Regions from separate parts of the Homo sapiens genome. Here regions 1 and 2 are each reported to be linked to region 3. Evidence: microRNA targets listed by miRTarBase, many of them from high-throughput screens and not tested one by one. Region 3 holds a microRNA gene; each other region holds the end of a gene's coding sequence.

Region 1 (3,000 bases), not on the chromosome of region 3:
TGTACGTGCCCACCGTCTTCGAGAACTATGTGGCCGACATTGAGGTGGACGGCAAGCAGGTGGAGCTGGCGCTGTGGGACACGGCGGGCCAGGAGGACTACGACCGCCTGCGGCCGCTCTCCTACCCGGACACCGACGTCATTCTCATGTGCTTCTCGGTGGACAGCCCGGACTCGCTGGAGAACATCCCCGAGAAGTGGGTCCCCGAGGTGAAGCACTTCTGTCCCAATGTGCCCATCATCCTGGTGGCCAACAAAAAAGACCTGCGCAGCGACGAGCATGTCCGCACAGAGCTGGCCCGCATGAAGCAGGAACCCGTGCGCACGGATGACGGCCGCGCCATGGCCGTGCGCATCCAAGCCTACGACTACCTCGAGTGCTCTGCCAAGACCAAGGAAGGCGTGCGCGAGGTCTTCGAGACGGCCACGCGCGCCGCGCTGCAGAAGCGCTACGGCTCCCAGAACGGCTGCATCAACTGCTGCAAGGTGCTATGAGGGCCGCGCCCGTCGCGCCTGCCCCTGCCGGCACGGCTCCCCCTCCTGGACCAGTCCCCCGCGAGCCCGGAGAAGGGGAGACCCGTGTCCCACAAGGACCCCACCGGCCTGCCTGGCATCTGTCTGCTGACGCCTCTGGCTTGCGCCAGGACTTGGCGTGGGCACCGGGCGCCCCCATCCCAGTGTCTGTGTGCGTCCAGCTGTGTTGCACAGGCCTGGGCTCCCCACTGAGTGCCAAGGGTCCCCTGAGCATGCTTTTCTGAAGAGCCGGGCCTCAGAGTGTGTGGCTGTGTGTCTGTTCGACTCCCCTCGCCCCATTTTCACCCCACCCCCGCCTCTGATCCCCGGGGGCGAGATTGGCGCGGGAGTGTGGCCGCGCCCCATCAGATGTTCGCCCTTCACCAGCGGGAGCTTGATATCCCTTGTCTGTAACATAGACCCCGGGTACTGCGGGAGGGGAGGGCTGCTGGGGAGGATGGGGGGATGTTATATAAATATAGATATAATTTTATTTTCGGAGCTAAGATGGTGTTATTTAAGGGTGGTGATGGGTGAGCGCTCTGGCCCAGGCTGGGCCAGACTCCCGCCCAAGCATGAACAGGACTTGACCATCTTTCCAACCCCTGGGGAAGACATTTGCAACTGACTTGGGGAGGACACAGCTTCAGCACAGCCTCTCCTGCGGGCCAGCCCGCTGCGAACCCTCCACCAGCTACCGGAGGGAGGAGGGAGGATGCGCTGTGGGGTTGTTTTTGCCATAAGCGAACTTTGTGCCTGTCCTAGAAGTGAAAATTGTTCAGTCCAAGAAACTGATGTTATTTGATTTATTTAAAGGCTAAAATTTGTTTTTTTATTCTTTGCACAATTGTTTCATTGTTTGACACTTAATGCACTCGTCATTTGCATACGACAGTAGCATTCTGACCACACTTGTACGCTGTAACCTCATCTACTTCTGATGTTTTTAAAAAATGACTTTTAACAAGGAGAGGGAAAAGAAACCCACTAAATTTTGCTTTGTTTCCTTGAAGAATGTGGCAACACTGTTTTGTGATTTTATTTGTGCAGGTCATGCACACAGTTTTGATAAAGGGCAGTAACAAGTATTGGGGCCTATTTTTTTTTTTTCCACAAGGCATTCTCTAAAGCTATGTGAAATTTTCTCTGCACCTCTGTACAGAGAATACACCTGCCCCTGTATATCCTTTTTTCCCCTCCCCTCCCTCCCAGTGGTACTTCTACTAAATTGTTGTCTTGTTTTTTATTTTTTAAATAAACTGACAAATGACAAAATGGTGAGCTTATGATGTTTACATAAAAGTTCTATAAGCTGTGTATACAGTTTTTTATGTAAAATATTAAAAGACTATGATGATGACATTTATAAAATGGCTCTTGTGGTTTAATAGTGTGTAAAAATACCCTTGTGAATTTGGAACAAGGGAGATATTCTCCTAGGCGAGATCCTTTCTTGCCAACTCCGTTTCCCTTATAGCAAATGTAGTAAATGAGGATGAAGTCCCTTTGAGAGCATGTGGGGGTTGGGTGACCAAGGGAGACCAGGTTGTTCCTGTCACATTCCTAGAGGAAGATGAGTGGATACCCCGACACCCAGTGCAAAAACTTTTGACCTATTATGTACTCAGTTCAATTGGGTGAGACCGAAGATCTTGATTTCATTCATCTGTGTGTCTTAAAAACACTTGTGTCTTTAAGTCTATTATGGGGCTTTGCTTATTCTTTGAGTCTTGGAAAGTTATCATTTGTGCATTTTAAATTTAGAAAACCTTTATTAATCGTTGGTGTGGGGTCACGCTATCAGGAAGCCTGTTTACTGGGTTCCCTTCAGGCCATCAAGGGGTTTACACAATATCCCAGGAAGTTGTAGGTTGTTATCTTTGGGCCTGGAGCTTCCAGAAGTGGGGGAGTTCAGATAAAGAGGTGATTTTTTAAAATTATCAAGCTTTGATCCCAATATGTCCTTTATTAAGTAACCTAGAATGATTTATTCTAAGTTCAGAGAAGGGCCATATTGTGGAAAGAACATTGGATGTTTTGGTGGTTCTTAAAGTTGGAGCTGCCACTTTTTGAGAGTCATGATAAACTCTAATCGTAGACACTTAGCTTTGCTGTAATGGTTCTTAGAACCAGACGGGCTGATTTATAGGTGGAGACCACATTAAAATTCTGCTGCAGGCATGATGGTTCAAACCTGCCAGCTCTCGCAGCTTCCAGGGAAGGTAGCTGAGAGTGTCAACTGCCTGAGAAGTGTGGTTTTCATTTTTTTTGAATCAGCATTTTCTGGGTTTCTAGCACTTAGTTGCCACCTTCTCCTTCCCCCTCCTCCCCATTCCCAGGACAAAGGTGGAGGTCTCCTTTGAAGTTGTTTGCTTCAAAGCTTGAGGCTTCTGTTTCCTGGTCTTACCCCAGACTCCAAGAGCTTTTGTTGAGTGAATAAAACCTGGTTGGTGGTGACCTTTCACCCACTTAAATGCTGGCAGTAACT
Region 2 (3,000 bases), not on the chromosome of region 3:
CGTGCACGTCAAGCTCTACATTCTGCTGGGGGTCCTGAGCCTGACCATGGTGGCGTATGGGCTTGTGGAGTGCGTGGAGTCCAAGAACCCGATCAGACCCCACGCTCCAGGACAGGTCAACCAGGCAGAGGATGAAGAAATACAAACAAAAATGTGAGAGCAGTGAGGTCCGAGGAGGATGAACTCAGAAAGCACCAGCCAGAGAATTTTCTTAGAAGATGCCTCAGGACATAGAGCGGCTCCTCATCACCATCTCAGCACAATTTGGCCATTCTGAAGAGATCATGTTATTTCACTCTTCATGTATTTTTTTTCTATTCTAACAAATTTTTCGTCCACCATCTTAACAGAGATCAAGTGTATACATGAAGGTATCAGTTCATTTAATTTTAGATGCAAAAGAAAAAGGTCTAACGTACAATCAGCCAATTAGAATTTGCCTGAAATCATAGACTCACCCTAGTTTTATTGCTGTAGTTGTTTTTAAGAATTGGAAGCCTGCTTAAAAAATGTAGTTGAGCCCCATAATTTTACAAATGGGCGAACTTTTAAACTTCTAACTCTACTTGGATCAAAACCTCATACATTTTACAAAGGGGTCCTGACAAGTCAGCTGACTCAACCTCACAGAGTCAGGGGGTGACAAAGCCAGACTGGGGCTCAGGATTCCTGAAACGTGTGGGGTCTGCGTTTCTAAATAAAGACGGTTATTTAATGGACTTACCTCCTGCCCAAGTACTGTTGTGCTAAGTACTCACATAGACACACACACACGCTTCATCACATCAGTGCTTTAGTGTGCTGTGGCCTTCGCAGACCTTCGAGAGCATTTCAGGTGAAGATGCTACATGTGTCTGTTAACATGGAAAATGGTGCCGGGCACGGGTTGGGTGATATTTGCCCATCTCACAGTCATCGTCTTGTCCCTTGGCACCTGGTCTCCTCTCTCCCTTGTTCTTCCTAGCAGCACTGCCGCCTGCCCATCTCCAAGGCTTCTTCCTTGTCCACTGCACTCAGGTCCCCAGGCCCTCCCCAGCCCTCCCCCATTACTAGCACCACCTTGCCCAGCCCCTTCCCGCCTCCCGCTCATCCTCTCCCACAACCCACCCTCCCCGGCCCTACCCCTGCCCCCCCCACCCCTCCCCAGACCCCTTCCTGGCCCCTTTCCTACCCTCCTTGGCACCCCCCCACCCTTCCCCCACTCCCGTGCCCTCCCCACCCCCGCCAACCGCCTTCCCTGCCCCCCCCCACCACCCTCGCTTCCTGGACCTGCCCCGCCCACCCTGGACCCCCCCCCCCACCCCCTCACTCCTGGGACCTCCCTGGCCTGTGGGCCTGGAGCTTGGGATCTCTTTTGTCCTTTAACCCTAAGCTGCTTCCTTCCCCTTCCCTTCCTCTTCCTCCCCCTCCCCTTCCCCTTTGGTTCACACTGAGGCTTCTTCTAGACCTTATGTGTCCTGTCTGTGGCTCTCCCGCTGCATGTTGTTCGTTTATTGTTTCTACGAGCATCTCCTCCTCCTGGAAATTCAGCTTTCCAGTGTCTAGTACACAGCACTAGCAGGTGCTTCATATGTGCAGAAGGAAATGGGCCTCTCTGTGAAATTCCAAATACTTCCTTCACTCACCCTCATTCATTAGGATGCTGGCTGCCTCTGGCCATGGGAGGGGGAGCAAATGCCTCCTGGCCCTGGCCCTTTCTCCTTCTAGTCAGTGTCAGCCAGGTGCCCAGACGGGCGATGATCAAAGGCAGAGAAAAGTGCAGCTGCCACGAGCTAATGCTTCCTGGCCTCTCAAATGTTACCTCTCAAGCTTCCCCACGACGAGCTGGGCATTTTCTCCCAACTGTTAGAATTCCCCTGATAGCCCAGTGTCTCTGACCACCAGCAGCCTTCTTCTTGTTACCCAGGCTCATGTGCCCTTTATGTGCCACTCTGTCCCTGGCCTGGCTGATCAGGGAGGAGGCCCTGCCATTCCTCCCCCAGGCTGCCGATCCTCTGCCTCCATTCCATTCCCTGTCGATCCTCTGCCTCCATTCCATTCCCTGTCGGCTGCTTCCTGGTTCATTGTCCTCCCTGCAGGGCTCCTCTTATCCTCCATCCGGGCTATTGAGAGAGGGATTTCACTAAACACAGGACACTTCACCTCCAGCGCCCATCTAAAGAGCACAGTCTTACCCACTGGCCGGGACAGTCCAGGCCTCCGTGAGTTAATCCCAGCTGCCTCTCTAGCCTTCCGTCCGTTTCACCAGACTTCTCTGTCCAATGCTTCTGTTAAATACCGAGGTCCTTCCCTTATGGGCCCTTCGCTCATGCTGTCCCTGTGTCTCTATCCAAACCACGTTTATCCTCCCAGACCCAGTGGAATGCCGTTAACTCTTTGCAGGCTTCAACCATCTTCCTAAAGCTGGGCCTCTGCACTCTCTAATCCCTGCCCTGCTTTGTCCTCCCCTTTCCTGCCTTGCACCACGGGCTGCCTGGTGCCATCCCTGTCTGTGGGATCCATGGCCGTCTTGCCCAGCGCCATGCCTGTTTGTGGGATCCATGATGGTCTTTGCAGCTCCCACAACAGGGTCATGTCAAAAGGAGTCAAGACTGGCTAGGGTATTTGTGTAGAGGGCGTTCATCGAGGGTAAGGTGACATGTCATGTCCCCTCCATTTGGAGGTTTAGGATTTTGTGAATTGATGATGGGCACTCCTGGTGCTCCTCAGGATAAGTCTTATTTGGAACTGGTCTTTGGTTTCTCAGTCTGCTCAGAGCATTTTGAACCCTGTAGACCCTAAGTCAGTAGGAACTCCTTAGACCTTCGGGGGTAGTGAGGCCTTTGCAGAATGTCTTGGAGACAATGAACTAGGCCTGCTCATGAGGTGTGGGGGGCACTAAGGAGTGAGCCCTGGGCCTAAGGCTGGAGGGGAGGACCCAGAGGTGAGAGGAGTTGGGGAGTGCATGTGCATTTGTCCAAACCAGTGTGCATCTGCGTGGCTCCAGCCGGCCGTTCAGAA
Region 3 (3,352 bases):
TTATAGACTGTAATTTCTACTGTTGTGACAACTGTAACAACAAAAAATTTCTGGTAGTTTAATTTAAATAAAAAGCAGATTGGTTAGCACTTTTTATTTTTTCAACCACATCTCATTTATTTTTAGAAAATTTACACATGCAAAAAACATTGATTTGCAAGAAAAATATACCTATTCAAATGAAGAAAATTAAAATTGTCTTTTGCCTTATGAGAAGATTTCTGAGAAAGTCCATTTTCATAAACTGATGGAACATCATCATCACTGTAAGCCAAGTCACTTTCTAGCAGAGGACAAGAAATATCTATAAAACCAAAAAATTGTACATTAGTAACTTTTGGATTGCAAAGCAAATCTTTATTGCTTCAGTTACCAAGTCAGCATACTTCAATTAAATTTTTTCAAAGAATCAAAAATATTTGTGTAGATATGAATTAATAAGTAAATGTAAAAATGCACCCCAAACTTACAATAAGTTAAATTAAGGGCAATCCATGGAGTAAATTTCCTTCAAATATCCCAGGTAAAGCATTACCAAATTCTTTTCAAGAGATTCTTTTACAAATAAATATTTCTGGTATGTATGAAACATTTCACTTTACTGATTATAAAAACTAACTTTAAATGGTCAATCAAGTTTTATACCTGAGTCTAATGTTTTATTTGTTCTGAATTCTGCATGTGGAAATACTCTCTGCAGGGCTTCTAAAATCTTGTCAACAGTGTTTTGCAGGAGTGGTTTCACAACGGTGGACAGTGCCTGCCCAGGTGATGTCACAGCTCTTTGGGAGGCTGGTATCATCTTTTGCATAGCTACCTCGAAATCCTTAGCTGAGATATTAATTGAAGAGAGATCCAACTGCAGTTTCTCACTAGTGGTATAGATCTGTGGGTAGCGTCGTCGTAAAGCACATAAAGCAGCTTCAGCACATATTGATTTAATATCTGCTCCACAGTATCCTATCCAAAGCAACCAGGGGAAGAAAAGAACCAGCCGACCAAACAAAGAAACACAAAACTCTATTAGCATGACCATGGTTAAAAAAAAAATTAAAAATCAGCCTCGGAATATAGTTAGCAAATATTTAAGAGTAATAAGACCAAAATCTCTTTTACCCAGTAAACTTATAGGGTAGTAATGGCCATCAACAATCAATCAACTTTTAAGAGTGCAATACACAAGCACTAAGTATAGCACAGAGGTCAAAAGCAAGAGTTTTAAAATCACACAGACTAGATTCACATTCCAGTTTGTAATTTACTAGCTGTATGACCTTAGAAGATTCACATAATGCTCTCCAGCCATTTCTTCATCTGTAGAGATACTGCTACCTACATCACAGGAATGATGTGAAAATTACATGAAATAATATATGTAAAATGCTTAAAAGGATGACTACAAAATGGTCAGTAAAGAATAGCTATTATCTTATTATGATATAATAATATATTGTATTTTGTACAATTATATTATTATCTACTCTGCCCCTGATGGCCAATTTGTCAAATATCTCTATTTAATACCAAGACTTCATGAGAAGAAAATGCCACAAATAAGAGATAAGAAACAAATATAACCTTGTATTTCTTTATTAGTCTGGTGCAAAAGAAACTGTGGTTTTTGCCATTACTTTTACAGGCAAAAACCACAATTACTTTTGCACCAACCTAATATAACTTGTTTCATATTTGAAATAAATGTAGTATTTATTTTAACTGCTTAAAACAATGTTTACCAACACAGTTTTCTGCTAGCTCTTCTAAAAATGTGTCCAGTGGTTTGGGATTCCAATCCCTGGTGTGAATCTTTAGAATCTCTTTTCGAGCCTATGAATAAAAACAATTTAATTTTTTACAACTATAATAATAAATGCTATTCAGATTACATTAATTTTGATTAAAATACTTTTGATTATCTAAAATTTTAAAGTGATCAGTACTTAATACTGGCCGGGTGCGGTGGCTCACACCTGTAATCCCAGCACTTTGGGAGGCCGAGGCAGGTGGATCACTTGAGGTTGGAAGTTCAAGACCAGCCTGGCCAACATGGTGAAAACCACTCTCTACTAAAAATACAAAGATTAGCTGGGCGTGGTAGCATGTGCCTGTAATCCCAGCTACTTGGGAGTCTGAGGCACGAGAATTGCTTGAATCCCGGGGACGGAAGTTGCAGTGAGCTGAGATTGTGCCACTGCACCCCAGCCTGGGTGACAGAGCAAGACTTTATCATAAACAACCAACCAAAAAAACTCAATATAAGCAAAATATGAAAGTGAAAATAAGAAAAAGGATGTACTTTTAAGAGTTTAATGAACTTAAGTCTCATTATTAAACATATTTGCATTTATAGCACTAAAGTTATATTCGTCATAAACACAAATAAGAGAAAAGTAACTACTAAAGTAGCTATTCATTCTGGTGCATATTAAGAGCTGTTTTTAAGAGTACAGACAGCTCTTGACATATTTTCCTCTTTGGTTCCCAGAAGATTAAGTAGACTTAAAAAAACTCGGTAGGATTATATGATGATATTCATGAAAAAGACAAGGCTAACAAACTGGCTAAGGATTGATTACTCATTAAGCCATATGTTCTGAAGCAACACTTAGAACATCCAAAGGCTACACTCAAATTGAAATAATTTTAAGAGTAATTTTGGGAAGGCATTATTATATTTAAAGAAAAGAATAAAAATTTGTCCCCATTTGAGTTGTTTACTATCATTTGACAAGACCATGATACAAAACTCAAGAATCTCCAAATTTTTACTATACCAAGACTTATTATTAATAAACAGCAATATATTTTGTCAAAATTTGAGTGACATTAAATTCTTACCTCTTTATCAGGCAGGCTAAAGAGGAATTCTCTATCAAAGCGACCAGGCCTTCGTAAAGCAGGATCTATAGAATCTAGCCTGTTCGTAGCACCAATGACCACAATTTCCCCTCTGCTGTCCAATCCATCCATAAGAGCTAGCAGGGTGGAAACAATAGAACTAAATTTTAAAAATAAGAGAGAAGAGATTAATACTATGAACACAGTCTATATCATTCAGTAATATTTCTTCTTTTGTAAGATTTAACGCATTACATGTGAATAAATTTTCTCAGGGCACCTCACTATTTCCAATGGATTAAAAAAATCTATAAAATAACATCCCAAATGGCCCACAGAAATTGAAATCAATGGAAAACAGACGGTTGTTAGACCCCCCACAAATGAATCCTAGAAGACATTTTATAAAGCATAATTTCACAAAGGAACTTAAGAGTTCTCAAACAATATATAACATCAAAAAGAAAAAAAAGGCAAGGCATGGTGGCTCACGCCTGTAACCCCAGAACTTGGG

Evidence for each region. Region 3 holds the annotated microRNA hsa-miR-548d-3p (CAAAAACCACAGUUUCUUUUGC, at 1,603-1,624, opposite strand). A microRNA usually pairs through its seed, bases 2 to 8, with sites in the 3' UTR of a target mRNA and lowers its output. Matches are read on the target gene's strand: a 7mer-m8 pairs with bases 2 to 8, a 7mer-A1 pairs with bases 2 to 7 and ends in A, and an 8mer does both.
Region 1: miRTarBase lists RHOB as a target of hsa-miR-548d-3p. Seed matches in the 3' UTR shown: 7mer-A1 at 1,455-1,461.
Region 2: miRTarBase lists UNC93A as a target of hsa-miR-548d-3p. Seed matches in the 3' UTR shown: 7mer-A1 at 480-486.

The regions. Positions count from the first base shown.
Region 1 is chr2:20,447,563-20,450,562 of GRCh38, forward strand. RHOB (ras homolog family member B) reads left to right here. Exons shown (of 1, transcript NM_004040.4): 1 at 1-1,878. The coding sequence ends at 494. Among named protein-coding and RNA genes, the nearest start is that of RHOB, 2.0 kb to the left of the region's middle. RefSeq lists an enhancer at 2,639-3,000.
Region 2 is chr6:167,315,296-167,318,295 of GRCh38, forward strand. It overlaps UNC93A (unc-93 homolog A), which reads left to right. Exons shown (of 8, transcript NM_018974.4): 8 at 1-719. The coding sequence ends at 157. Among named protein-coding and RNA genes, the nearest start is that of TTLL2, 8.3 kb to the right of the region's middle. RefSeq lists an enhancer at 1,375-2,170.
Region 3 is chr8:123,346,447-123,349,798 of GRCh38, forward strand. MIR548D1 (microRNA 548d-1) reads right to left here and starts at 1,684; the gene lies at 1,588-1,684. ATAD2 (ATPase family AAA domain containing 2) reads right to left here. Exons shown (of 28, transcript NM_014109.4): 14 at 2,839-2,998; 15 at 1,737-1,827; 16 at 646-960; 17 at 172-304. It overlaps MIR548AA1 (microRNA 548aa-1), which reads left to right and starts at 1,588; the gene lies at 1,588-1,684.